Regions from separate parts of the Homo sapiens genome. Here regions 1 and 3 are each linked to region 2. Evidence: fine-mapped expression QTL. A gene starts in region 2. Each other region holds a variant in brackets. All regions are shown on one strand. Distances are between the middles of the regions. Region 1 overlaps DES (desmin). Region 2 holds the start of DNPEP (aspartyl aminopeptidase). Region 3 has its middle 8.2 kb from the start of DES.

Region 1 (5,918 bases), 34 kb after region 2:
GTGGAGAAAGGGTCCTCCACCTGTGTGTTTCAAGGGGCCGTGACCTCCAGGTCTCTCCCCCTGCGATCCCATCTTGCACAGGAGTTTTCTTGGGGACATAGATCAGGGGGTGGATATGGGAGAATTTAGGGGACCCGGTGCCCTGTGGACAGCCCCGTTAAAAAGCATTTTAAGATGCTGGGGCGATATTTATGGGGTCAGGTAGTTGATGGGCAGAGGAAGGGCTGCAGGAGGCCCAGAGGGCAGTGTAGCCAGAGGGAGAAGGGAGGCTGATAGGAGACAGGGAAAGCAGGGCAAGGGCCCAGAGTCCAAGCAACAGCTCTCAGCTCAGCTGTGATGAGGCCCTGGGGGAGGTGGGGGGAGGGGGGAGCTTGGCCCTGGGGCCTTGCCGAGACTGTGTCTTTTTACAAGGTGAATGGACAGGCTGGAGAAAAAGGGAGTAGGTGGGGGTCACAGCTCTCAGAGAGCTTGGGAGGACCTGACTGTAGACTTCACCAGGCTCCAAGAACGAAAAGGGCAGCAAGTGTAGCATATTTGTTGGTCCCACTTCTGACAGGCCAAGTGAGCACAGTCACCCTCCTGCCACCAAAGTCATAAATATTAATTGAGCAGCTATATTGGCCAGGCTGGAGCTGGGAACCAGAAACACAGAGGTGGATAAAATAGACACAGTTTCTAACCCCAGGGAGGTCACACAGTCTGGTGGGGACATAGACTTCAAGGGTGTGGCTCCTGGGCAGAGATTGGGCCACTTCCTGTGCCCTCCCTGGGTGGGTGGGGCCTCTCCACTCCCTGTCTCTCCTGCCTCTACCCAGCAGCCAGGCCCTCCCGCTCTGTCCTGGACCCACCCCCTGGTCAGCCCCCGGCCAGTCGTTTCCACTGCCAGCTTTATCACCCGCAACTGTCTGTCTTTCTGTCTGTCCCACCCAGGCTGCAGGAGGAGATTCAGTTGAAGGAAGAAGCAGAGAACAATTTGGCTGCCTTCCGAGCGGTGAGTGCCCTTCTTTTCCCCTTGCATGGCCTCTGGCCTTGCTCTGCCCCACCTGGGTGGCGGTGACCATGTCCTTCTCGCTTGGCCTCTCCCAGGACGTGGATGCAGCTACTCTAGCTCGCATTGACCTGGAGCGCAGAATTGAATCTCTCAACGAGGAGATCGCGTTCCTTAAGAAAGTGCATGAAGAGGTATACCTTGGCCCCTCTTCCTGGGGTCACTGGGCCATGGGGAAAGCAGCCGGAAAGTGGGGTTGGGGTGAGGCTCTGGCTGGGAATAGGGGTGTGAGGGTGCTGTGTGGGCCCTGAGAGGGGACTGAAGCCCAGTCATGCCCTACAGGAGATCCGTGAGTTGCAGGCTCAGCTTCAGGAACAGCAGGTCCAGGTGGAGATGGACATGTCTAAGCCAGACCTCACTGCCGCCCTCAGGGACATCCGGGCTCAGTATGAGACCATCGCGGCTAAGAACATTTCTGAAGCTGAGGAGTGGTACAAGTCGAAGGTGGGTGGCCTCGCCCGGGGACTGGCATCTCCGTCCCCCTGAATCCCAGCTTGGATGTGCTGCCTGTGGTACCATCCATGGGAGGAGAGCCCAGAGGCTTCATGCTCCCTTGCTCATCCCTACCCGTGCCCTGCATCCTTCTCATTTTTGGGCCCCTTTCTCTGCCCTTAGGTGTCAGACCTGACCCAGGCAGCCAACAAGAACAACGACGCCCTGCGCCAGGCCAAGCAGGAGATGATGGAATACCGACACCAGATCCAGTCCTACACCTGCGAGATTGACGCCCTGAAGGGCACTGTGAGTCCCTGCCCACCTGGCCAGGCCCTGCCCCTTCCTGTCTGCAGTTCACACCCTCACTTTGTGACCTTGGGCCCATCATAGATCCTCTCTGGGCCTTCATCTACTTAAATCTACAATAGGGGTAAAACCAGACAAGTGGATTCCAGTTGGATGCTAAGGAATCAGGGGTTCCTGGGCATCTACCTATGTGGGGACTGTGAGGCTGAATGCAATGTTCCTTTGTATCTATTTTATTCTGAGTGTTCACATATAGACTTAATTTGAGTTCAGGGTTCAACATGGCCTGGACCTGACCATCTGGAGTTGCCTGCCAGCCCCAAAGCTTTCTTTGGGCTGCTAGTGTCCTCTTCCCTTCCTTGACCTGGGTTCCCCCTCTCCTGCAGAACGATTCCCTGATGAGGCAGATGCGGGAATTGGAGGACCGATTTGCCAGTGAGGCCAGTGGCTACCAGGACAACATTGCGCGCCTGGAGGAGGAAATCCGGCACCTCAAGGATGAGATGGCCCGCCATCTGCGCGAGTACCAGGACCTGCTCAACGTGAAGATGGCCCTGGATGTGGAGATTGCCACCTACCGGAAGCTGCTGGAGGGAGAGGAGAGCCGGTGAGGGGCCAGGCAGGAGCCCGAGTGGGAGGTGCGGGGTGCTGGGTGGTCCATTTCTGTCCCCAGGAGGCTCGAGATTACTGATTACCTCAACAAGACCTGGAAACAATTTTTTTTTTTTTTGAGATGGAGTTTCGCTCTTGTCGCCCAGTCTGGAGTGCAATGGCACCATCTTGGCTCACTGCAACCTCCGCCTCCTGGGTTCAAGCAATTCTCCTGCCTCAGCTTCCCGAGCAGCTGGGATTACAGGCGCCTACCACCACGCCTGGCTAATTTTTGTATTTTTAGTAGAGACGGGGTTTCACTATGTTGGGCAGCTGGTCTCGAACTCCTGACCTCAGGTGATCTGCCTACCTCAGCCTCCCAAAGTACTGGGATTACAGGCGTGAGCCACCGCACCCGGCGTGGAAACAATTTTATACAAGAGGCCACTGCTCTATTAATTGCAGAGAATTAACCAAGGCCACCTGGGTAAAAAGCAATTTAATTAACAGCATTTATAAAAAGAGAAATATAAGTATTCCCTTATCCACCTTCAGAATTAAGAACCAGCAGCAAAAAAAACCATATTCAGCAACCAATAATAAAATATTACTGCCAGTCAAGGGAGAGATGAAAGCAGAATGGGGAGTGATGAGGAGGGAAACGGAGGGAGCAGATAGAGGCAAATAGAGAGAGGGAGGGAGAGAAGCCTTGCACAGGGATAGGCTAAGAGAAGGTAAAGAGATGCATACAGAAGGCATGAGTTTGC[ACACACATG/A]CACACATGTCAGCATATGCACATGTTCGGAGGAAAAGACACAGACGTCATGCTCAGAGCAACCCACCTCTAGACACAGAAAACAACATACAACTGGAAAGGGACACCAGGGAACCTTGTGGGATAACAGAAATGTTCTATATCTTTTTTTTTTTTTTTTTTTGAGACAGAGTCTTGCTCTGTCACCCAGGCTGGAGTGCAGTGGTGTGATCTCAGCTCACTGCAACCTCTGCCTCCCAGGCTCAAGCGGTTCTCCTGTCTCAGCCTCCCTAGTAGCTGGGATTACAGGCGTGTGCCAACACACTCAGCTGATTTTTTGTATTTTTAGTAGAGATGAGGTTTCACCATGTTGGTCAGGCTGGACTCTAACTCCTGACCTCAAGTAATTCGCCTGCCTCAGCCTCCCAAAGTGCTGGGATTATAGGCATGAGCCACTGTGCCTGGCCTAGAAATGTTCTATATCTTGATTTGGACTGGTAGTTACACAGACGTGGACATTGATCAAAACTCATTGAATTGTACATTAAAGATCTGTGCATTTCACTGTATGTAAATTTAACCTCAATTTAAAACAGATCAGTTACTCCAAAAACTGGTACCCCTTGATACTCATAAAAATAATATCTGAAATTTTTAAAAAGGAGCAGACATGTTTAGATACAGGTACAAACATAAAGAGAAACTTCAGATTTTGTAAAATCACGTCTACATATGATGGCCTTTGAAGGTAGCTAAAGGCATGTTGCATTTTCCCAGCATTAGGCCTAAATAGTAAGCTCTCAGAACTGGCCTGGCTGGAGGGTGGGCATGAGCAATGGATATCACCCACAGCTGCTACTAGTACCAACTTCAGTGCCAGGAGCAAGAAGGAAATCCTGGTGCTCTGGAGGGCGCGGTGGGGTTGCACATCCTAGTGTCGTGCCAGCAGTTCACAGTTGAAATAATGATCCTTCCAGAAGAGACTATTCCTGGGACAGCTCTAGCTGGCCTTCGACCCCATTCCTTGAGCAGTATGGGTGGTGGGAGTGCTGGGGTCCGTGGGACTGGGACAGCTGAGGATGGTGTTTAGAAAGGACCAGGGTGAGCCTTGATGGGCGGTCTCAGGGAAAGATGGGAGGGTTCTTTTTTTTTTTTTTTTGAGACAGGGTCTTGTTCTGTCCCCCAGGCTGGAGTGCAGTGGTGCAATCTCCGCTCACTGCAAGCTCCACCTCCTGGGTTCGCACCATTCTCCTGCCTCACCCTCCTGAGTATCTGGAACTACAGGTGCCCGCCACCATGCCCGGCTAATTTTTTGTATTTTTAGTAGAGACGGGGTTTCACTGTGTTAGCCAGGATGGTCTCGATCTCCTGACCTGGTGATCCGCCCGCCTCGGCCTTTCAAAGTGCTGGGATTACAGCTGGGCCCGGCCGATGGGAGGGTTCTTAACTCTTAGGAGGTTTTGTCTCTTCCCTTTTAGGATCAATCTCCCCATCCAGACCTACTCTGCCCTCAACTTCCGAGGTGAGTGTCTGCTGGCAGGCGGAGGCTGGAGTTGCAGGGGCCAGGAGTCCAGCATGGGCACTGCCCAAGGCCAGCCAGGAGGGAGGATGGGACCCTGGGGCTAGGGACAGACCTGGAGTCTGGGGAAGAAAAAGGGGACCACTGCGGGTAGGTGGGGGAGTTTAGGTAGAGGTGGATGAGGCAACTTATGACAGAGAGAGCTTTTTATGTGATTATATTGTATTGTATTTACCATGTCCCCTGCACCTTCTTGGAGTATTGGGCCTCAGGAAGCAGCCTCTGTTCTGAATCCCAAACTCTGAAAGCAGGAGTGTCCTTGGGGACCTGGCTTCAGGAGCATCTCATACCACCTGCCCTCTAAGACACCCACAGCCCATTGTCTGTTTGGCACATTGCCAAGCCCCACCTTGGCTGCTTGTCGAACACCTCCAGTTTGCTGGAGCAAGATGTTGGATGCACGTTTGGAAAAAAATGCCAAATCTTAGCAAAGCCAAACAATGAAAAGAACGAGCTCTTAGGGCACTCTGCCATTTTGACATTAGTAATACGCAGATCGGGTGGCTTTCCAACCCCAGAGAGCAGAGAAACACACGATAATGATGCATTAGGAAAGCAAGTCGGAGTCCTTGGCAGCTTCTCCTTTCCTAGATCAAACCTTTTCTATCTTCGATGTACATTTCCATCAGGAAAAAAAACACGCTGCGCTCCAGCGAGTCACAACATTCATCACAGGCTGGTTGCTAGCTAAGGAAATTCGTAAGCACCAAACTCATAATACCAAGGACCTCCATTTGACCTTTCCTACACAACTCAGAGCCTCTCTTTTCAGTTAGTTGTTTATACAGACACCAAGTATGAGTCTTGCATTTAAAACTTCATAGTACAAAAAACTCCACCCACATTGCACAGTGCTTTTCCAAATCAATAGCTTTGTGGCCATGATAAGGTTGGTACCACTTCACTCCGTGTCCTCAGTGAGGAAACTGAGGCACAGAATGGCAAGTGACTGAGCATCAGCACAATGAGTCAGTGCCTTATTCCTGCTCTGTCTCACTTTAAGACATCAAGTTGCTCATCTGAATTTTTTTTTTCTTTTGAAACGGAGTCTCGCTCTGTCGCCCAGGCTGGAGTGCAGTGGTGCAATCTCGGCTCACCGCAACCTCCGCCTCCCAGGTTCAAGCAATTCTCCTGCCTCAGCCTCCTGAGTAGCTGGGATTACAGGCATGTGCCACCACGCCCCCCTAATTTTTGTATTTTTAGTA
Region 2 (11,109 bases):
AGCTAGAGATGACATTTCCAGGCTCCCCTGCAGCTAAGTTCTGTGGAATGTAAGCAGTGATGAATGTCACTTCTGGATCATGCCCTTAAAGCCAGGGGGTGTCTACTGCCCCTTTGCCCTCTCTTCCCTTCCTACTAACTCAGTGTAGACATGATGGCCAGAGCTGGAACGGCCACCCTGAATCCTGAAATGGAAGTCATGTGTTCAGGACGGCAGGGACCCCTCCTAAACTGCTAACTCTGACCTGGGTTGTTACATGAGAGAGCACTAGCTGTTCAAGCTCTGTTATGCAGCTGAGACTGCAGCCTCACACACGCAGGCATCATGAGGACCTACTCTGTGCTGAGCCCTGGGGCTACGAGGATGGGCTGGGTAGAGTCCCTGTCCTAAAGGAAGAAGCTCACCATGTGGCACAAAGAGAGATACAGGAGAGACGGTCACCCTCGAATAAGCAGATCTATGTTGAGTCAGAGGAGACACCAAGTGCTAAGGAGGCACAGGCAGCATCTCCCCTGTCTTGGGGCCCCCAGAAGAGCCCTGGCTCACGGTGGATGCCTGGCACAACAAGTTGGCTGTGGAAGACTCCGCAGAGGTGACCCTCCCCAGAACCCTCCACGTACCTCTTCGTTGTCATAGAGTGTGACCATGCGCACGTGAGGCTCTGTGGCCAGGGAGCCAGGGCCTGCACAGGAATCTATCAAGGCCTGGTTCAGGGAAGGAAATGAGAGCATCATCTCCAACCTGCTTCTGCTGGAACTCAGCCCACCAGCACCTTGGGTGTGCACGCTCCCCCATCCACCAGCACCTTGGGTGTGCACATTCCCCTGTCTGCCTTCCATGGCCATGACTTTTATCAATTAGGGCACTGCCTGGCAGAGGGTGTGGTGGGGACCTTTTTTTTCTTGCCAAATAAATAGCTACATAGGTAGAAACCTTTAAGGTGTGGTGAGGACCTTTTTTTTCTCTTTTTTTCTTTCTTTCTTTTTTTTTTTGGCCAGATCAATAGCTAGGTAGAAACCTTTTCAACTGGGACAGGAGACACCATCCTTTGGGTGTTGTTCTCTACCTTCCCATGCAAAAGGCAGTAGAAGATGTGGAGGACAGAGAGGAAGAGCTGAGAGTCCTGGAAAGCCAAAAGGCTACACACATCACATAAACTGATTGGCCTCAGGGAAAAGACTGAGGTTCAAAGAGGTGACAGACTCCATCAAGGTGACATGACTGGCTGGTTGCCTGCAGAAGTAGATGCAGGTCCCAGGTCCAGCTCTGGTCTCAATTACAGCCCAAAGCCTATCTCCAGCCACAGGATTACAGGGAAGGAAAGGCAGAAAAAGGCAGAGGGAGATCAAGGGCAAGAGGAGAGAAAGAAAGGGAACTGACTAGGGTGGAGAGAAGGTGGGGAATATCAAGGTGACTAGGAAGAGAGGCTACCTGACTGAGATCCCAAGAAACAGGGAGAAGGCTGGGGTCTTAAGCCTGGGGAGTGGCGTAGGAAGCAGAAGGAGGTGGATGATACTGCCTTGTGGATGATAAAGCCTTTCCCTGAGGCAGAGGTTGTTAACTTCAGGAAAAGCAGCAGGAGCAAGGCTAGGACAAGAGACCATGGTGCCTGAAACAACTTCTCCTCCTTCTTCTTGCCTCAACACCCTGATAGTGCAAGGGCAGAGACCAAAGGTGGCGATGCTGAGGCTGCAACATTTAGGGCCCCCTCCTGGTCCATCCAGCACCAGCAGACTGAGCGGGTAGACAATGGCCCTCTCTCACAACCTGCTGGGGCTTTAGGCAGCTCCCCCGACCCCAAACATACCACCTCTGCTGGTGGTTATGTGCTGCCTGGGGCGCCCCGGCTCCTCACCTGCAGGGCACAGAAGCAGCTGTGCAGATTGTCCAGCCGAGGAGCAAAGATGAACTCATCATAGGCACCACCCAAGACCTAGAGAGGTAAGACAGTCAGCCCGACCTTCAACCCTCCACCCCCACTCACCTTTCTTTTGCTCCCAAGGGTCTCCTTGGTTTCTTGCGCAACCTCTCCCTGACCCCTGGCTTAGGGCACTATTTTGTTTTTTCTTTTTTTTGAGATGAAGGTTCGCTCTTGTCGCCCAGTCTGAAGTGCAATGGCTCGATCTCGGCTCACTGCAACTTCCGCCTCCCGGGTTCAAAGGATTCTCGTGCCTCAGCCTCCTGAGTAGCTGGGATTACAGGCATGCACCACCAGGCCCAGCTAATTTTTGTATTTTTATTAGAGACAGGGTTTCACCATGGTGGTCAGGCTAGTCTCGAACTCCTGACCTCATGTGATTCCCCCCGCCTCAGCCTCCCAAAGTGCTGGGATTCCTTGCTAGGCAGGACCAAGCAGAGATTGGAGAAGGGGGCTGGGTTGGTGCTGAGGAACAAAAGGGTGGAGGCCAATAGCTCTTGACCTCTTCCTGTGGGTCAAGAAAAGGAAGGGCTGAATTGTCATCAAAAAGGCCAAAGAAGTAAACAGAGGAAACCAGCCAAAAAACAGAAACTTAGTACGTGTTCAAGCAGGACACAGCATCCAAAGATTTAGCAATCTCTGACCATCAGCAACCGGGAGACAGAGAACAGATGGCCACATCCAGGCCTCTTTCCCTAAGCAGTTCAGTGTCAGTGTGGGTCAAAGCAGACAGGGCCCACCTGTAGAAGAAACTCTTTGGGAATCTGTAAAAAGGGCCAATTCCCAGATAGTCCTAGTGGGCAGGTCTGGGGTAGGGAACTTGTCTTTTTGAGAACCACCGCCCTAGAAGCAGTGGGGGATGTGTCTACTGGGAAAAACGGGGATGAGAGTTACTGAGGGCTTGGTGGAGGTGATGGGTGCTTCAGCAGGACGGGCTAGGGGTGGCCAGGATCCTGGAGGCCCTTCACCCACAGGTTCCTACAGCCAGTCCTCACCGCAGGCTGGGTGTCTGCAAGGCAGAGCTCCATCTCCACTATGTCCTTGGGGCTCAGCCCCAGATGGGCACAGAGCAGGGACATGAGGACCGAATGGTGCCGCTCATCCTGAAGAGCAGAAAGATGCTGGGAAGAGTCCATTCCTCCTCTCCTCCCCACTTCTCAGGGGACTCTGCCGCCCTCCCCATGATCAGGAGACTCTCTTACCACAGCATTGAGAGGCCCTGGCTCAGGAGTCCCCTTCTCCAGCTCCTCCTGGATGGCTGTGGCAAGAATGGGGACTCTGTGGGGAGACGTGGGTTGTGGGGGGATTGCGAGGAGGGCACAGCTGAGTGCGGCATCCATAAGTTCAGGTGCCTCCTGATGGGCAACTGCCTCTGCCCTTCAATTCCCAGCCCACTCCCCAAATCACAAGGCTGTGAGGACCCTTAGAAATTAACTGGGTCCCAAGAGTAAAATGTGACCTAATGGCTACCATTAGGTAATAATCACCTGGTACCATTCTCCATCCCTCCCAGCCACCGCAGCCCTGCCCCAGTCTCACAGATGCATCTCTGTGTTGGGCCCAAAGTTCTCGTTGATATTTCGCTGCAGATGGATGGCCAGGTGTGGGATGCGAAGAATGGGCCGCTCCACGTGCACCAGCTGCTGCTCCAGCCGACCTGAGGTAGGGCACTGCAGCCAGCCAGGCCAGGTCAGCCCAGGGTGCCTCCTACCCCAGTGGTCAGTCTTTACTTCACTCAGACTAAGCAGGGTGGTCCTCTGACCAGACTGCCCCCACCCCTCTTCCCCACGGGTACCCTGAGGAGTGTGGCAGTCAGTCTTCTGAGGAGGCTCCGCCATCCCCAACCTCGGTTCCCACCTTGACAATGACGCGTCCAGCCAGAGTCAGGTCACGGTCAAACCAGGTGCTCCAGATCCCACCACCATAGGTCTCCACACCGACTTGCTGGAAGCCCACCTGGCTGCGGCGAGACCGACGTTTCACCTGAGTGTAAAGATGGAGAAGTCAGAGAAGGCTTCATGACGATATGTGGAGATGAGACTTTGGCTACTCATAAGTAACAGACAGCGAATATTAGTGTCACATGAAAGGCTCAAGGTGTGAAGGAAGGGGCCAACAAGTTTACCTTCTCCCTTACTCCAGGGGATAGAGGCCCCAGTTTGTACCTCCTAGTTCTCTTTTGCCCTGTACTCCCTCTGACATCTCCTCCCACCCCAACACCGTCCGAGTTCCTTACCCGGAGGCAGGGGCTGTCCGTGTGGGCCCCGATGAGGCTGAAGCCATTGCCAGGAACGTACTGGCCCCCTACAGCAAAAGCTATGATGGTGGAGGAGTTCCTGGTCATGAAGTACTGAGGAGAAGGGGAGGAAAGACAGGGGTGTGAGTTGCATTACTCAGCTGGCACACAGGGCTTGGAGACCAGCCTAGGGACCTGCCTTTCCACCCCCACCCCACCCCCAGTACCTTGCTCTCGGGCTTAATATTCCATTTCTCAGTCTCCTTGAGTTCACTGAAGCCAGCCTGGAGAAGGCGGTTGCGGCATTCAGCCACAGCTGTGGGAAAAGCACCCTCTCACAGCGATGGAAGCTGGTGAAGGGCGCATCAGCCTCCACCCTCCTCCCTTGCCCTGGCCACCGCTTACCATGGAAAGGAGAGGGACTCCGGTTCACGAACTTGAGGAGTTCCTTAGCCGCAGTCTGCACCGCCTCTTTGCGGGCCTTACCGTTCATGGCCACCTAGGGGAGGGGGATGCTCAGACTTTTACAAGGTCTGGGACCCCTGACCTTTCACCCAGGTTCCGAGGATTCTCCCATCCCCACCCCCAGAAGTGACCACTCTAAGGCACAGACCTCTGCTTCCGCCCGTCCCCACCGAGAGACCCAAACCCAGGGCTGAAACTCCGTTGAAAGCTTCAGCCCGCCGGCCCAGGATCATGAGCCAGGCCCGCCCCTTAATCCGAACTTTAGCCCGACTCCCTAAGTCCCGCCCCCATGTCCCTGCCCAGCTAGGAAATCCTGTTCTGCTCCCAAACTCCGGGATCCCAAGCGGGCCCCATACTCTGAGGCGGCCTGCATCACGTGCGCGTACCCAGCCCGGAGCCAAAGCCCTGTACCCCAAGGAGCACCCTGACTCCTCTCTCGCACCCACCTAGTCTCTCGCAGGACTCCCCCTTCCAGTCCCGGGAAAGTCGTCAGGTCACCCTCCGCGGGGCTTTCGGTTTCGCTTTGGGTCAGGCGGCCCCACTGCAGCACCGCGCTAAGCTTGGGCCCCGGAGGGCGCCGGACCCGGTCTGGGATCGAAATTCAAGTGGGGCCGTCGGGAGCCACTTACCTGCATGGCCCCGCGCGTGGGGCTGTGTCCGCTCATCTGGCCTCCGGGCTCGGCCCGCCCCCACCGCGCCGCCTGCCCCGCCCCTCACTAGCTTTGCAGGTCCCCCGCGTGCCCCTTCAGGCCGCGCCGCACTCGTAGGCCTTCATCACGCTTCCCCGGCCGCGCCGCCCCGCCCCATGTTTGGCCTCCCCGCCCACCTCTCCCCGCCCCTCGGCATCCGCCCCGCCCACCTCGGTCAGCCCCGCCCCTCGGCGGGCTTACCCTGTCCGCTCCGCCCCTCGCTGGGCACCACCACCCGCCTTGCCCCGCCCTTGCCCCGCCCCTAGCTTGGCCGCACCGCCCGCCCCGCCCCGCCCCTCGCCAGGAAGCACCGCCCGCCCTGCCCCTCGCAGGGCTGCACCGCCCGCCCCGCCCCTCGTCAAGCTTCCTCGTCCGCCCCGCCTCTCGCCAGGCTGCACCGCCCTCCCCGCTTTGTCCCGCCCCTCACCAGGTTTCCCCCATCCGCTCCGGCCCTCGCTGTACCCCACTACTCGCCCTGCCCCCGCCCTTGCTCCGCCCCGCCCTTCGTCAGGCCTCCTTGCGCTCCCCGCCCCTTGTCAGGCCGTGCCGCCCACCCCGCCCCGCTCCTCGCCAGGCTGCTCCACCCGCCCCGCCGCTCGTCACGCTTCCTCGTCCGCCCCGCCCCTCGCTAGGCTGCACCGCCCGCCCCGCTTCCGCCCCATCCCTCTCCAGGCCGCGCCTCCGCCTCCGGCCCGCCCTCGTCTCCGCCCCTGCGGGGGCTGCTCGTTAGGCCCCGCCCTGCACCCCCGTCACCCACGCCGCGCGACCCGCAGCCGCCGCCAGGGCCCTCTGCTGCCGCGGAGGTGCTAGGACAGCCGCGGACGGCCCGCCTCCCCGTGCCCCGGGCCTCGAGGCCAATAAAAAGCTCGCCCCTCCAGCTCACCGGGTCCGACGGGTACGGTACAAAGTGCTGTCTCTCGCCACAGCCACCTTTGTGACAATAAAAGCAATAAGGCTAATGTCCATGGGGCGCTCACGGTGAGCTTTAGCTTTATGATAAAGATTGGCCTGTTACCTCGTTTAATCTTCACAACTGCCCCATCAACTATGTACTCTTACTGTCCCCAGTTTATGCATGAACAGAGAAAGCTGAGATACGGAGACTAGTGATCCGTCGAGGTAATAAACGGCACAGGTGGGGTTTGAACTCCATCAGTTTGATTGCAGAGGCCTGGAACAACCCTACAGCCTTCTCTCAGATCTTTTCTGGACCTTTTTCTATGCGCTTTGGTAAGTGTTATGTTACACGGGAGGTCCACAAGGGACACAGAAGTTGACTTGCCCAAGATCACATAGCTGTTTGGGTGGATCTGGGATTTGACTCTGATATCTGTGCCCTTTCCATTTGTTAAAAACAACAGAAAAACAAATTCCACATTATTGGCAGTTCCAGTATTCCCATGTCAGGAGTAGTGAGTAGCACGTTTAAACCCCATGCACCTTCCTAGCTGCAGGAACTGATCAGGACTCTTGGTGGCCTCTAGATCCAAAACAGGGCCCAGCTACCAGGGGTTCAAACAAAATTCCAGAGATCACAGGTTTATGGAGCAACCTGCCGTTTATATACCTGGGGTGGGGAGTGACAGGGTGGGATGGGGAGAGGCTGGAAAGGTCCTGCAGCCCTCACTTCAAACTAGTAGATATGGCAGGGGAGTTTTCAAGAATTCACCCACTAGGTGCTGGCTTAAATTCATGGCATTCCCTAACCGTTTGTTGAAATACCATTATGGGCCTGGCGCAGTGGCTCACGCCTGTAATCCCAGCACTTTGGGAGGCCGAGGCGGGTAGATCACTTGAGGTCAGGAGTTCGTGACCAGTCTGACCAACATGGTGAAACCCCGTCTCTACAAAAAATACAAAAATTAGCCGGGTGTAGTGGCACGTGCCTGTAATCCCAGCAGCTACTTGGGAGGCTGAGGCAAGAGAATCGCTTGAACCCGGGAGGTGGAGGTTGCAGTGAGCTGAGATCGTGCCACTGCACTCCAGCCTGGGCGACAGAGTGAGATTCTGTCTCAATAAATAAATAAATAAAATTATGTATAAAGCTCAATGCTGAGCAGGACATGGAGAGAGCATTCTTGTCCTCTACCTCCTGGGGAGGGGACACATTCAAGGAGGACAGTGAAAGGGCCGAAACAAGGCTACAATGTATAAGGGAAGGAGACAACCTGAATAAGGAACCACCTTTAATGTTCTTTCTGATCACAGAAAAGAGTACATGCTTGAGTAAGAGATTCAAACATCACCAAAATGCATAACTTAGAAAGTGAGCCGGGAGTGGTGGCTCACGCCTGTCATCCCAGCATTTTGGGAGGGAAATACAGAAGTGTTCCTATTCAAATCAGAAGTGAGACATTGATGAGCTATTACTGCTGCTAGACAATGTGGAGCTGTAGTCAGAGCCAGTACCACAAAACAAAATTAACAATTCTATATGTGCAAAAGTAAAATTGGTCATTATTTATAGATTATATGATTATCTAGAATCCCCAAGAAAATAAACGATCAAGCTATTATTAGAACTGGTAGGAAGGGTAGCCTAATTTAAAAAACACTGACTTTCTTGTACAATAATCACCTAGAAAATATAAAAGTAAAAAGGTTCTTATTGACCATTTTTGGTTTGGGTAAAAAAGAAAAAAGTAAAAGGGCTATATTTACAAGAGCAAGAAATATTGTTAAATTTCTAGTCATGAACATATGAGACACCTAATCTCACTTTAAACAGGAAAATGCAAGTTAAAAATGAGATAACAGTTGGGCGTGGTGGCTCATGCCTGTAATCCCAGCACTTTGGGAGGCAAAGGCGGGTGGATCACGAGGTCAGGAGTTTGAGACTAGCCTGGCTAAAAATACAAAAAATTAGCTGGACATGGTGGTGTGCACTTGTAATCCCAGCTACTCAGGAGACTGAGGCAGGAGAACTGCTTGAACCCGGGAGGCAGAGGTTGCAGTGAGCCGAGATCGTGCCATTGCACTCCAGCCCAGGCAACAAGTGCGAGACTCCAACTCAAAAAAAAAATTAATAAATAATAAAAATGAGATACTTTTTCTTTTTATTGAGCAGATTAACAAAAATGGAAAAGATGGGTAATATCAAGTGTTGGAGAAGGCTTGGGGTAATGCAAGCATTTTCTGGAGGCTAAAGCAACTCCATCTGGGAAGCTAATCTGCCATGTTGACTTTTCAACAACCTGTTCCAGGAATGACTCTAAGTTTTCTACTTTACCTACTATTACCATAAATCCTGCGCTTAGACAGATTCACATAGCATTCATGACTTTGCCTGAGGGGTCAACTTCAATTGTTTGACACATTGTTTCCCTATGGTATGTAAGCCCTGGGTTTGCAGGGTAATCCACCATTTCATCTCTGAAACTATGGCCTCTATTCATAAGTCCCTATGAAATGTTTCTTTCTGAGAGACTGTATATGTCAGCCTCTTTCGTCGGCTTTTCAGCTTCCCTGAACTTTGGGGGTATGTTTGCACAGACCTTTATACCCAAATTTCTGTGGTGTAAATGTTCCCCGTGGCCGATTTCAAGCTGTCGAGATGATGTCACTGAAGGGAGTTGGGAAGAGCTGTGCGGAAGCATGCCATTATGTAGATTTCCACCATGCAGACACAATGGATAGAAATAACATCAACAGCATAGATTTAAGAAGGCAGTAAAATGTTTGGAAAGGTGATGGATTTTTGGTTTTCATTATCTGTAATATAATTTATTTAATTGTAAGTGTATATAATTTAGTTTTTTTTAATGATTGCTGTGTTTAACAACAAGCTCACCAAATTCCTGGAAATTTGACAATCAGTTCTCATGAGCTTGTCCAAGTTGGCCCCAGCACACTATTCCACCCGTACTGTACATCTTTGCTACTAAATGTGTGATCTGTTGACCAGCAATGTCAATAACATCTGGGAGCTTTTTAGAAATGCAGAACCTCAGGGCTTACCCTAGAGTTATAGAATCAGCATCTGCATGTTAACAAGATTCCTAGATGATTTGAATGCTTGAGACACAGTATTTTAAAGTGCTGTGTAGCAGTTCATAAAAAAAAAAAAAAGGTCAGTCTTTAGGAATTGTTACAGAAAAGAATTCCAAATATACTGTTGAGTGAAAAAAAAAAGCAATTTCTAGAATGTAAGGTGAGGGCCTTTAGATAAAACTCACACAATGAGCTAAATTTATATTTCTAGATGTTATATAAATACATATGTAAATGGATAGAAACAGGTTTGGAAGGATAATGGTCACCTCTGGGTAAGGGAATGGTGATGGATTTGGAGTTCAGGTGGCAAAGTCAAGGGATGACTAGGGATCAAGAAAGAAAAAGTTTCTGAGAATCGTTCTTGCCCTTGGCCTTCTGAGAAAATCTTCCCTGGAAGATCTCGGCTGATGTTTACAATGCTACCATTATTCATTCATCTTTTTGGTTTAACACATATTAAAGTGCAAATACTTTTGCGTGAACATAGAAGTCAGTTACATACACTTCAGTGTGAGTTTATAAGATACATATGTCTTTTTTTTTTTTTTTTATTGAGACGGAGTCTCGCTCTGTTGCCCAAGCTAGAGGGCAGTGGCAACCATCTCAGCTCACTGCAATCTCCGCCTCCTGGGTTCAAGTGATTCTCCTGCCTCAGCCTCCCATGTAGCTGGGATTATAGGTGCCCTCTACCACACCCAGTTAAATTTTTTTTTTTGAGATGGAGTCTCACTCTGTTGTCCAGGCTGGAGTGCAGTGGCGCTATTTTGGCTTACTGCAACCTTCATTTCCTGGGTTCCAGAGATTCTCCTGCCTCAGCCTCCTGAGTAGCTGGGATTACAAGCACGCATCACCATGCCTGGCTCATTTTTTGTATTTTTAGTAGAGACAGGGTTTCACCATGTTGGCCAGGCTGGTCTTGAACTCCTGACCTCAGGTGATCCACCCACCTTGGCCTCCCAAAGTGCTGGGATTACACGTGTGAACCACCGCGTCCAGCCTAGAACTACAAACTATTGATCCTACCTTTCCCTATTCCTCACTCCTGTCTTCATGACTCTCCTACCTAGGATGAGCCATACATTCCACTGTTGTGCTCACTCCCTCGCACACACCTTCAAGTTCCTGCTCTAGATTTGCGGACTTGCCTGGCAAAACCCCAACCCTGACTGCAACCAGCTCCTCCCCTGCTCCAACCTGTGTGGCTGGAGAAACATCCAAGCCGCGCTGCCTGGTCTCACTTTAAACCAGTGGTGTCCGGTCTTTTGGCTTCCCTGGGCCACATTGGAAGAAGTAGAATAGTCTTGGGCCACAAATAAAATACACGAACCCTAACAATAACTGATGAGCTAAAAACCTTTCAAAAAAATCTCATAATGTTTTAAGAAAGTTTACAAATATGTGTTGGGCTGCATTCAAAGCTGTCCTGGGCTGCATGTGGTCCATAGGTGGTGGGTTGGACAAGCTTACTTTTTTTTTTAGTTTTTTTGAGACAGAGTCTTGCTCTGTTGCCCAGGCTGGAGTGCAGTGGCATGATCTCAGTTCACCACAACCTCTGCCTCCTGGGTTCAAGCGATTCTTCTGCCTCAGCCTCTCAAGTAGCTGTGATTACAAGCATGAGCCACCATGCCTGGCTAATTTCTGTATTTTTAGTAGAGACAGGGTTTCACCATGTTGGCCAGGCTGGTCTCGACCTCCTGACCTCAAGTGATCCATCTGCCTTGGCCTCCCAAAGTGCTGGGATTACAGGTGTGAGCCACCACACCCAGCTGGACAAGCTTGCTTTAAACTCAACCACTAACCTAAGTGTG
Region 3 (11,109 bases), 22 kb after region 2:
GGCCATTTGGGAAGTGCAGCGTGTGCTCAGGAAATGGCCGGATTGGGTTACTGGCAAGATTAAAGGAGCTAAATCGGGCCTGGGCTTGGGAGAGGTGTCCAAGAAGGGAACTGCCCAGGACCAGCAGCTGGAAGACCAGGAGAAGCAGCCTGGGACCTAGGGGTGGGGGCAGGGATCCTAGTCCAGGCCGGAAGCCCTCTCAACACCAAAAAGCTAGAATGTGGGGTCACCAAATAAGGGCCTCCTCACTTAGACGGGGCTGGGGCTGGGGTGGAGCCCCAGAGGAGAAAAGGAGAGCTTGGGAGAAGTTGGAGCCTAGATTCAGCCCAATTCTGAGCTGGTGTCTGGAGCTCCAAGCCCTTTTCTGGCTGGGGAGTGGGGGGCACTCTTGCTTGTAGGGTGTTGGTGGGAGAGCTCACTGCACAGCACAGAGGAGCTGCTGGAAACAGCCTGGGGCCCTCCAGCGCCCTCTCAGTCCCAGCACCAGCCTGTCCGCTCCTCTCTGCCCGATCCCTCTCCCAGCCTGAGTGGCAGCACCGGCTGTGGCCCCTCCCAGCCCCAAGGGCAGGCGGTCAGTGGTCTATTCTGGTATCCAGGGTGGCTGGGGCACCTGGGAGAGGGCAGAGGGAGCACCTGCCCCATCTCTTTGAGGCCGGATGAGGTGGGGGCATTAGGAGGGCCCTTTGGGATGGTTGGGGTATACCGTTCTGACTGCTGTGGGTGGGAAGAAAGAAGGCCAGCACTCTGCTTTCAGCAAATTGTAACTCTGGGGATCTTTAGTTGGGAAGGGAAATGTATCTGGGACACTCCTGATGCGCTCTGGGAGCATCTGGCACTCACGAGCTTGGGCAGTGGGAATCCCCAGGGGCTGGCAGTGGACCCCGGAATCTTTTTGGAAACTTGAGGCCACAGATCAAGCCTGGACTTTGGTCTCAGTCCTCCTGGCAGCCTCTCCAGGACAGAGGTGTGGATGCTGCTACGCGAGGCTGCTCCCAGGCCGGTTGGGGGCAGTCTGGGGCCAGGGTGGACTGAGGGGAGCCTCTGCAGCCTGTGAGGAGCCCCGTGCCTGGCTGGCCTGTGAGTGGCATGGGGCAGAAGGGCCCCCACTGGATTCTTTATCCTTCAGATGAAAAATTTCCAGTGTCCTCCCCACCCGCCTTTCCTGTAGGCTAAAGTTCGGACTCCTCTGTCAGTGGGGCCTGACTCCCTGACAGCCTCCCCCTCCATGCCTAGACCGTTTCTGGAGGGCAAGGGTTTTGGGAAGAGGAGCAGAGCAGAATGTTAGGAGGGACTTGTCCAATGCTGGACAAGGGGCTTTTTCCATGGAGAGTCCCCGATGGGGCCGAGTTAAAAGGGGATGAGCCGAGGGCTGTGTCTGCCAAATCAATATGTGGTAAGGCCTTGGAGACCACACAGAGAAATAAGCAGGACTTCTAGGAGACACTGACTAGGGTTAATCCAGGCTTTGCTTTTTACTTGCTGTGCAACCTTAGGAAACTTACCTAACCTCTCTGAGGCTAGTATCCACCGCTGTAAAATGGGGATAAGAGTTACTTCAGTGTTGTAAGGATTAGAGATACAGTGATTCCATGTGGTAGCTATCCATAATACTGTGCCTGGTATACAGTAGATGCTCAGTGAGTGGTGGCTGTGTTATTCTCAGAGGCACCATAGCCCATAGGAAGAGCTAGTGCTTTGGAGTCAGGCAGTCCTGGCTCTCAATCTTGGCCTTGACCTGCTGACCTGAAGCAAGGACTTGAGCAAGTCCTTGGCTCCCACTGAACCAGTTTCCTTATTGGTCAAAAGGGGATACAAAAAATACTCATGATGGCTGGCACTTACTGAGCACTCGAAGTGTGCTGGGCACTGTGCTAAGTGCTTTGCAGACAAGTTTCTCGTTTAATCTTCCCAACAACCCTATGCTGTAATTACCATTTCACAGGTGAGGAAACAGGCTCAGAGAGGTGAGGAAACTAACCCAAGAGTGGGAGATCCAGGATCTGAACTCTGGCCATGGCCTATCAGATGCTTCTCAAATTCCTCCCCTTGCCCACACCTCTGCAGAGTCCAGTGGAATTGAGGTCATGGGCTGCCTATCTGGCAGACGTGAGAAGACAGAAGGATGATGGGCTGGGCTATAAGAACATACAATGCTGAGGGCCCAAAAAAGGGTGTTGTGTAGAACCCAACACTCATCTTCATTGTGTACTTGGATGGTTCAGAGAATAAAGCATCCAGCACAGCGGCAAGAACAGTTCAGGGTGCCGTGGTGGACTGGGATCTGGAGTGGCAGAGAAGGCCCTGGGGTCTGAGTGGACCCCAAGCTGACCGTGACTCAGCTGGTTGGAGGAAGAGGAGGATGAGCCTATAAGGCTATAAATAGAAGCTGTGCATAGTGGCCCTGTGAGGTCATTGCCAGCCTGCTCAGGCCCTGTTTAAAGCCTCACAGCCTCAGAGGGATGTAGGAAACCTGGAAGGGGCCCAGGAGGGCAGGGATCTGACCAAACTGGAGAGGCTGAACCAAAAAAGCCTATGAGGCAAGATGAAAGGAATGGGGATGAATCAGGAAGAAGAGAGAATGGAGTGATGGCACTGAGATCCCAACAGAGAATTCCAAGGAAGGGGTGCAACCCCTTTTCTTCATCTAGGTTGAAATATAAAAAAGAAAGAAGGGGCCCAGGTGCAGTGGCTCACGCCTGTAATCCCAGCACTTTGGGAGGCCGAGGCAGGTAGATCACTTGAGGTCAGGAGTTCCAGACCAGCCTGGCCAACATGGTGAAACCCTGTCTCCACTAAAATATAAAAATTAGCCGGGTGTGGTGAGGGGGCACCTGTAATCCCAGCTACTTGGGAGGCTGAGGCAAGAGAATCGCTTGAACCTGGGAGGTGGAGGTTGCAGTGAGCGGAGATTGCAACATTGAACTCCAGCCTGGGCAACAAGAGTGAAACTTTGTCTCAGGAAAAAAAGGGAAAAAAAAAAAAAGAAAACAGACCTCTTTCACCCCTCTCTTTGGGGTCAGAGTAGGGAGGTATGTCCAAGGATATTTCACTTTAAGCAAGGATAAACCCAGACCCAGAACGGGGAGGTGACCAGTCCAATGTCACACAGCTTGTCTCAGAGCTGGTCCAGGACAGGTCCCCAGTTCAGCCATGTGCTCCCAATGCATCCGGAAGCCTTCCCTGAGGTGTTTTCTTTTTTTTCTTTTAGAGACAGGATCTTTCTCTGTCACTCAGGCTGGAGAGCAGTGGCTCAGTCATAGCTCGCTGCAGCCTTGACCTTCTGGGCTCAGGCAATCCTCCTGCCTCAGCCTCCCTTGTGCAGTGGACTCCAGGTATGCAGCACCATACCTGGTTAATTGTTTTAAAAAAATTTGTAGAGACAAGGTCTCACTTTGTTGCCCAAGCTGATCTTGAACTCTTGGGCTCAAGCAATGTTTCTGCCTCAACCTCCCAAAGTGCTGGGATTACAGGCATGAGCCACTGTGCTGTCCTGGGACCTTTCTTAATGCTACCAAAGCCCCCTTCCCTTCCGTCCACCCTTCCGTCCCATCCTCTCCTCCCTGTCATCTCTTACTGGGTGAATAACACCTGAAGTTTACAGGGTACTGAGAGTCCACAAAGCCCTTTCATCTCCATCATCTCATGAGCTCTTCCCCCTTGAGGCCCAGCCTCCTTCTCCTCCTAGCCTCCTTCCTGGGCTGAGCTGTCCTATTTGGTGGGAGAAGTTGGGGGCTGGGGAGGAGGTGAGATTAGCCCCAGACTTGTCCTACTTTGGCAGAAAGTCCACAGCACTCTGTGTCTGTAAAAGGAGCGTGGGGCAGGAGGGGCAGGAGTCGGGGCTGTGGGGCCCTCCTTGGAGAAGGAGCAAGGTCGGGGTGTGGGGGTGACGAGGACGATGAAGGAGGGGTTGATGAGAATTGGGGTGGGGGTGCCAGTGAAGGAAGGGGCCCAGGAGAGGGTCTGGGGGCTGGAGGTGGAAAAAGTTAGGAGAGGGAAGATATGGCCCGAATGTCTTAAGCCAAAGAGATGTGGAGCGTGGCCGATGGGAGGGGGGTGGATTGCTGGCTGAGCCTGGGGAGGAGGCAGCGCAGCAGGAGAGGGATGAGTTTCAGGGAGAATCCTGACGCCATCCCGGCTGGGCCCCCAACTCTCCAGCCTCCCCCCGGGTGATATCAGGGAGAAACAGCCGCCTCTGGACATTCCTTCCCTTTTACAGTCACTCCAGCTCCTCAGCAGCCTGTGGAGGTCAAGCAGCTGCTCCAGCTGGGGGAAGGTGGATGGAGGGGATGGGGATGCATGGGAGGGGGCTGCTGGAGGGAGGGGCTCTGGACAGGGAGGCCAGGGGACATTAGACAGTGAGTCCCAGGAAAAAACTCAGCTGAGACCACCCCCTGCTGGGGCCCAGAGTCTCAGGCTGTCAGAAGTTGAGGGGACTCCAGAGGTGACTTGGCCTTGTCCCCTCACACTGGGATCACAACAGGGCCGAGGCCAGGGACTTGCCCAGGTAGCCCAGGTGGTCAGCTGGTGAATCCCCAGGGTGTCCACCTGTATCTTCGCCTCCAATTGACCACTCTACCCCCAACCCCTAAGCTTGTGCCTTTTGCCACCACCTTCTCACCCCCCTGTCAATGACCCAGTGCTACAGTTGATGATGAGGGCCTAGGTCCCCAGAGTTCATCCTTGCCATGCTGTTCCCAAGGCTCTCTCATGCAATGGCTGCCTCCTGGCCCAACCCAGCTCAGGGTGGAAGCATGAGGTCCCCAGCTGGAAAAAAAGAGAGAGAAGAGGGGCCCTGGAAGGAGTGGAAGGTGCCCCTGTGGGTGGGTATTAGTCCACGGAGGGAGGGTGCACCGCAGGAGGAATTAACACTGCCTCATACCTGGAATCCCAGGGCAAGTGAGGCTCTCTCAGACCGGGTAAAGGGCCAGTTCTCTCCTTTTTGAGTTCTTTCAGTTTTTCCTAATCCAAATGCCCTATGCTGGCCAAGCCACCTCAGCTATCCGCCCATACTAGCCACCTGTCCTCCATCCATGCCATTCATGAAATCTGGGGGCTCCTAGGTAGAGCCAGGGCCCTTATTTTCCAGAGAGCCCTCTGTGAGGTTCAGAGATCTGCCGGGGCATCCTGAAGCCCTCCAGACATTGCGCTCGGGGGACAGCAGGGAACAGCAAAGGCCAAGGTCTGGAGGCTGGAGAGAGCTGGGCAGCCTCACCCAACAGAAAGGAGGCTGAAGCAAGGGGAGTCTGAAGGAGAGGTGAGTGACCTGCAGTTGACGAGGTGGGCAGGGCCAGTCCTGTGGGGCCCTCAGAGGCCATGACAAGTTTGGGTCTTGCTGGTTCAATAGGTCAGGGAAAGGAGAGAAGCTGGGAGTGGCAAAACAGGCAACGTTCCAAAAGGCATGAACACTGCCCCCAAATGTTTGCAGGGTAGATCTGTGAAAGGGGGGTTCTTGCTCTGCTTGGCTCCCAGGTTAGAATATGTGGCATAGCAGAGACATGTCATCTGGCTTTGAGTATCAGGAAACGTTTTCTTTCTTTTCTTTTCTTTTCTTTTTTTTTTTTAATTTTGACACAGAGTTTTGCTGTTTAGCCCAGGATGGAGTGAAGTGGTGTGATCTCGGCTCTCTGCAACCTCCACCCGCCAGGTTCAAGTGATTCTCCTGCCTCAGCTTCTCAAGTAGCTGGGATTACAGGCCC[G/A]TGCCACTACACCTGGCTAATTTTTGTATTTTTAGTAGAGACGGGGTTTTGCCATGTTGGCCAGGCTGGTCTCAAACTCCTGACTTCAGGTGATCCGCCCTCCTCGGCCTCCCAAAGTGTCAGGTTTACAGGTGTGAGCCACCGCACCCGGCCAAGGAAAGGTTTTCTAACAGCAGAGCTGCGGTGCAGACATGTTAGGTACTCAGGGACTCTTCGGGAATGGAATGTGCTGCCCAGAGACAGTAAGTTCCCAGGGACTGGAGGGATTCAAGCTGATCAAGTGCTTGCTGGAGCCACAGTAAAGAAGACTTCGGACTTCAGTGAGAAGTGGGAGCATGAGACTGGTCAGCCTCATGACCTGCTGAGGTCCAACTGTAAGCTTCTAAAACTCTGAGGTTTGAATAATCTGGAAATATTTCTTTTTTGTTTTTTGGTTTTTTTTTTTGAGACGGAGTCTCGCTCTGTCACCCAGACTGGAGTGCAGTGGCGCAATCTCGGCTCACTGCAAGCTCAGCCTCGCGGGTTCATGCCATTCTCCTGTCTCAGCCTCGCGAGTAGCTGGGACTACAGGTGCCCACCACCATGTCTGGCTAATTTTTTTATTTTTAGTAGACACGGGGATTCACTGTGTTAGCCAGGATGGTCTTGAGCTCCTGACCTCGTGATCCGCCTGCCTCGGCCTCCCAAAGTGCTGGGATTACAGGCGTGAGCCACCACGCCCGGCTTAATCTGGAAATATTTCAAACGGAGAGCAGGACTAACTTATTTCCTTAATTCATTTAACAAAAGTTATTGTCAGTACCCACTGTGCAAGGCACCATCCCACATACACAAATTTATAAATTGTCCCCTTTTCTGGTAAATGCTGAATGAAATCATCTGTCCTGGTGGACCTTTCCATTTCCAATATCAATTAAGGAAGAGGCCTGACTACTAAATACTGTGACTTTTATGTTTTTTTTTTAAAAAAGTGGCCGGGCATGGTGGCTCACGCCTACAATCCCAGCACTTTGGGAGGCTGAGGCAGGTGGATCACCTGAGGTCGGGAGTTCAAGACCAGCCTGACCAACATGGAGAAACCCCATCTCTACTAAAAATACAAAATTAGCCGGGCGTGATGGCGCATGCCTGTATTCCCAGCTACTCAGGAGGCTGAGGCAGGAGAATCGCTTGAACCTGGGAGGCAGAGGTTGTGGTAAGCCGAGATCGCACATTACACTCCAGACTGGGCAACAAGAGCAAAACCCGTCTCAAAAAAAAAAAGTACCAAAATTTGTGTTCAAAGGTGTCCTGAAGATGTTCACAGCAGCATTGCTTATAATAGCAAAACACTGGAACAACATAAATGTCTATCAATAAGGAACTGGCCAAATAAATTATACCAAGTCTATACAGTGAAATACAAAGACACTAAGAAAAATGACTCAAAACCCCACAACAAAGAAAAGTGCAGGACCAGATGGCTTAACTGGTGAGTTCTAAGAAACAAAGAACTAACACCAGGCTGGGCATGGTGGCTCACACCTGTAATCCCAACAGTTTGAAAAGCCAAGGTGGGAGGATCACTTGAGCCCAAGAGTTTGAGATCAGCCTGGGGCAACATAGGGAGACTCCCTGTCTACAAAAAAATTACAAAGTTTGCCAGGTATGGTGGCACACGCCTCTGGTCCCAGCTACTAGGGAGGCTGAGGTGGGAGGGTGAGAGGGTTACTTGAGCCCCGGAGGTTGAGACTACAGTAAGCCATGATCACACCACTGCACTTCAGCCTGGGTGACAGAGTGAGACACTGTCTCAAAACAAACAAACAAACAAACAAAAAACCTAACACCAGTCCTCAAACTCTTCCAAAAATTAGAAGAGAAAGGAATACTTTCTAGCTCATTCTTTTTTTTTTTTTTTTGAGACAGAGTCTCGCCCTGTCGCCCAGGCTGGAATGCAGTGGTACGATCTCAGCTCACTGCAACCTCCGCCTCCCGGGTTCAAGTGATTCTCCTGCCCCAGTCTCCCAAGTAGCTGGGATTACAGGCGTGTGCCACTACACCCAGCTAATTTTTGTATTTTTAGTAGAGATGGGGTTTCACTATGTTGGTCAGGCTGGTCTCGAACTCTTGACCTCCTGATCTGCCTCCCTCGGCCTCCCAAAGTGCTGGGTTTACAGGCATGAGCTACTGTGCCCAGCCACTTTCTAGCTCATTCTATGAGGCCAACATTATCCTCATACCAAAGCCAAACAAAGACACTACAGGAAAACTACAGACCAATATCCCTTATAAATATTGATGTAAAACTCATAACAAAATACTAGCAAACCAAATTCAGCAGCAAATTTAAAGGATTACACACTATAATCAGGTGGGATTTATTCCTGGAATGCAAGGATAGTTCAATATATAAAAGTCAATCAGTGTCATACTTCACATTGACAGAATGAAGAAAAACCCCACATGATCATCTCAATGATAAATGAAAACAACTGCATTTATAATAGCATTAAAAATAATAAAATACTTAGCAATAAACATAAATAATGAGGCACAAGACTTGTACACTGAAAATTATAAAATATTATTGAAATAAATCAAAGAAGACAAAAATAAATGGAAAGACATCTCATGTTCATGAACTGGAACACTTAATATTGTTAAGAATACCATTACTACTCAAAGTGATCTATAGATTCAGTATAATGCCTATCAAAATCTCACCAACATTTTTGCAGAAATAGAAAAATCCATCCTAAAATTCATAAGGAATTTCAAGAGACCTCAAATAGCCACAAATTTTTGAAAAAGAACAAAGATGGAGAACTCACATTTTCTGAGCTCAAAATTTACTACAAAGGTACAGTTATCAAAACAGTGTGTGGTACCAGCATAAAGACAGACATACAGACCAACAGAATATAATAGAGAGCCCAGAAATAAACCCTCACACGTGGTTAAATTATTTTCATCCCAGGTGCCCAGACCATTCAGTGGGGGAAAGGGTAGTCTTTTCAACAAATGGTGCTGAGAAACTGGATATCCACATGCAAAAAAACAAAGCTGGACTCTTACCTTATACCATACATAGAAATTAACTCAAAATGGATAAAACAGCCAGGCCCACATTGGCTCATGCCTGTAATTTTGGCACTTTGGGAGACCGAGGTGGAAGGATCGCTTGATCCCAGGAGTTTGAGGTTGCAGTGAGCTATGATGGCACCACTGTAATCCAGCCTGGGTAACAGAGCAAGACCCTGTTTCAACAACAACAACAACAACAAACAGACATGATACCTAAACATAAGAGCTAAAATATAAAATTCTTAGAAGAAAACAAAGAGGAAAATCTTCATGACATTGGATTTGGCGATGATTTATTGAATATGACACCAAAAGCATAGGCAATAAAATAAAAAATAGATAAATAGGACTTGATCACAATTACAAACTTTTGTTCATCAAAGGACATTATCAACAGAGTGAAAAGGCAAACCACAGAATGGGAGAAAATATTTGCAAATCATATATCTGATAAGGGATTAATATCCAGAGTATATAAAGAACTCCTGCAACTCAACAACAAAAAATCCCCAAACAACCCAATTCAAAAATGGGCAAAGGATTTGAAGACATTTTGCCAAAGAAGATATACAGATTACCAGTAAGCGCATGAAAAGATGCTCAACATCACTGATCATTAGGGAAACGCAAATCAAAACCACAATGAGCAGCCAGGTGTGGTGGCTTGCTTCCATAATCCCAGCACTTTAGGAGACTGAGGCAGGAAGATCGCTTGAGACCAGGAGTTTAAGTCCTCAGTGAGGTATGATCATGCCATTGCACTCCAGCCTGGGCAACAGAGTGAGACCCTATCTTTAAAAAATGAAATAAGGCTGGGTGTGGAGGCTTACAACTATAATCCCAGCACTGTGAGAGGCTGAGGTGGAAACATCACTTGACCCCAGGAATTTGAGACCAGCCTGGGCAACATAGGTTTGGAGACCTCATCTCTATGGAAAAGTAAAAAAACTAGCCAGGTATGGTGGCTTGCACCTGTAGTCCTAGGTACTTGGGAGGCTGAGGCAGGAGGATCACTTCAGTCCAGGAATTTGAGGCTGCAGTGAGTGATGATCGTGCCATTGCACTCCAGCCTGCGTGACAGAGGCCCTGTCTCTAAAAAACAAAACAAAACAAACAAACCACAATGAGGTACCACCTCACATCCATTAGGAAGGCTACTATTAATATTATAAAACAAATAAACAAATAGAAAATAGCAAGTGTTAGCCAGGATGTGGAGAAATTGGAACCCATGTTCACTGCTGGTAGCAATGTAAAACAGTGCAGCTGCTGCGGAAAACAGCATGGCAGTTCCTCAAAAATTTAGACATAGCATTACCATATAACATAGCAGTTCCACTTCTGAGTATCTACAGAAAAGAACTGAACATAAGTATTTGAACAGATATTTGTACACCAAAGTTCATAGCGACATTATTCACAATAACCAAAAGTTGGAAACAACCCAAATATTCATCAACAGATAAACAAAGTGTGGTGTATACATACAATGGAATATTATTTAGCCTTAAAAAGAAAGGAAATTCTGACCCATGTCACAACATGGATGAACCTTGAAGACGTTATGCTAAGGGAAGTAAGCCAGTCACAAAAGGACAAATATGGTATGATTCCACTTGCATGAAGTACCTAGAGTCAAATTCGTAGAAACGGAAAGTAGAATGATGTTTACCAGGGGCTGGGAGGAGGGGAAGGTGGAGGGTTATTTTTAATACATATGGAGTTTCAGCTTGGGACAATGAAAAAGTTCTGCAGATGGATGGTGGGGATAGTTGTACAACAATGTGAATGTACTTGACGCCACTGAACTGTATACTTAAAAAATGGCTCAAATGGTGAATTTTATTTTATGTATATTTTATCACAATGTAAAAGTGACTCAGCTGTCAATGTACTAAAATGGAACCATCTCTAAGCTGTATGTCATTGAAAAAAGATTGATTCAGAAGTGGGGGCTCCACATAAGAAAATGTGGTTGTGTGTACATGAAGTATCTCTGAAAGGAACCGATAACAACCAAAACCTGGTTGTCTCTGAAGCAGTGTTTGGGGTGGCTGGGTGTCAAAGTGGGAAGGAGACTTACTTTTCATTTTATGCCTTTTTGCACATCTTGAATTTTGTACCATATACACTACCCATCCAAATAAATTGTCGGTATTTTTAGTGTGTCCCATCCTGAGTGGTCCTCTCGGGAGGCTGAACTCTCCCTCCAGCGGTGCTGCCCAGCTCACAGCATGTTTTGGAGTGCTCCTCTTTCACCTGCCTTCCAAGCCTCGGGGTGTTGATTTGCAGCCCTCCATGGTAGCAAATCCTCAGGGGTGGAACTGAATTTTGAAAACAGTCCCAA

What was found. PIP is the estimated chance that this variant, and not a neighbour inherited with it, causes the effect. A credible set is the group of variants that fine-mapping cannot tell apart.
Region 1: its variant is the best candidate, but not a certain one, in a credible set for the expression of DNPEP in whole blood (TOPMed, PIP 0.74).
Region 3: its variant is the best candidate, but not a certain one, in a credible set for the expression of DNPEP in whole blood (Lepik 2017, PIP 0.78).

What each region holds. Positions count from the first base shown.
Region 1 is chr2:219,419,165-219,425,082 of GRCh38, forward strand. It overlaps DES (desmin), which reads left to right. Exons shown (of 9, transcript NM_001927.4): 2 at 931-991; 3 at 1,087-1,182; 4 at 1,331-1,492; 5 at 1,664-1,789; 6 at 2,176-2,396; 7 at 4,613-4,656. Among named protein-coding and RNA genes, the nearest start is that of DES, 3.7 kb to the left of the region's middle. The variant ACACACATG/A (reference allele first, on the strand shown) is at 3,148.
Region 2 is chr2:219,382,511-219,393,619 of GRCh38, forward strand. It overlaps DNPEP (aspartyl aminopeptidase), which reads right to left and starts at 5,402. Exons shown (of 15, transcript NM_012100.4): 1 at 5,249-5,402; 2 at 4,560-4,653; 3 at 4,382-4,470; 4 at 4,155-4,268; 5 at 3,776-3,901; 6 at 3,458-3,588; 7 at 3,121-3,196; 8 at 2,914-3,021; 9 at 1,856-1,933; 10 at 621-704. The coding sequence starts at 5,284. DNPEP-AS1 (DNPEP antisense RNA 1) reads left to right here and starts at 6,060. Exons shown (of 4, transcript NR_183823.1): 1 at 6,060-6,286; 2 at 6,377-6,538. RefSeq lists an enhancer at 4,083-4,929 and silencers at 5,194-5,433, 5,454-5,973, 6,054-6,203.
Region 3 is chr2:219,404,641-219,415,749 of GRCh38, forward strand. No RefSeq gene overlaps it. Among named protein-coding and RNA genes, the nearest start is that of DES, 8.2 kb to the right of the region's middle. RefSeq lists an enhancer at 3,766-4,266. The variant G/A (reference allele first, on the strand shown) is at 5,697.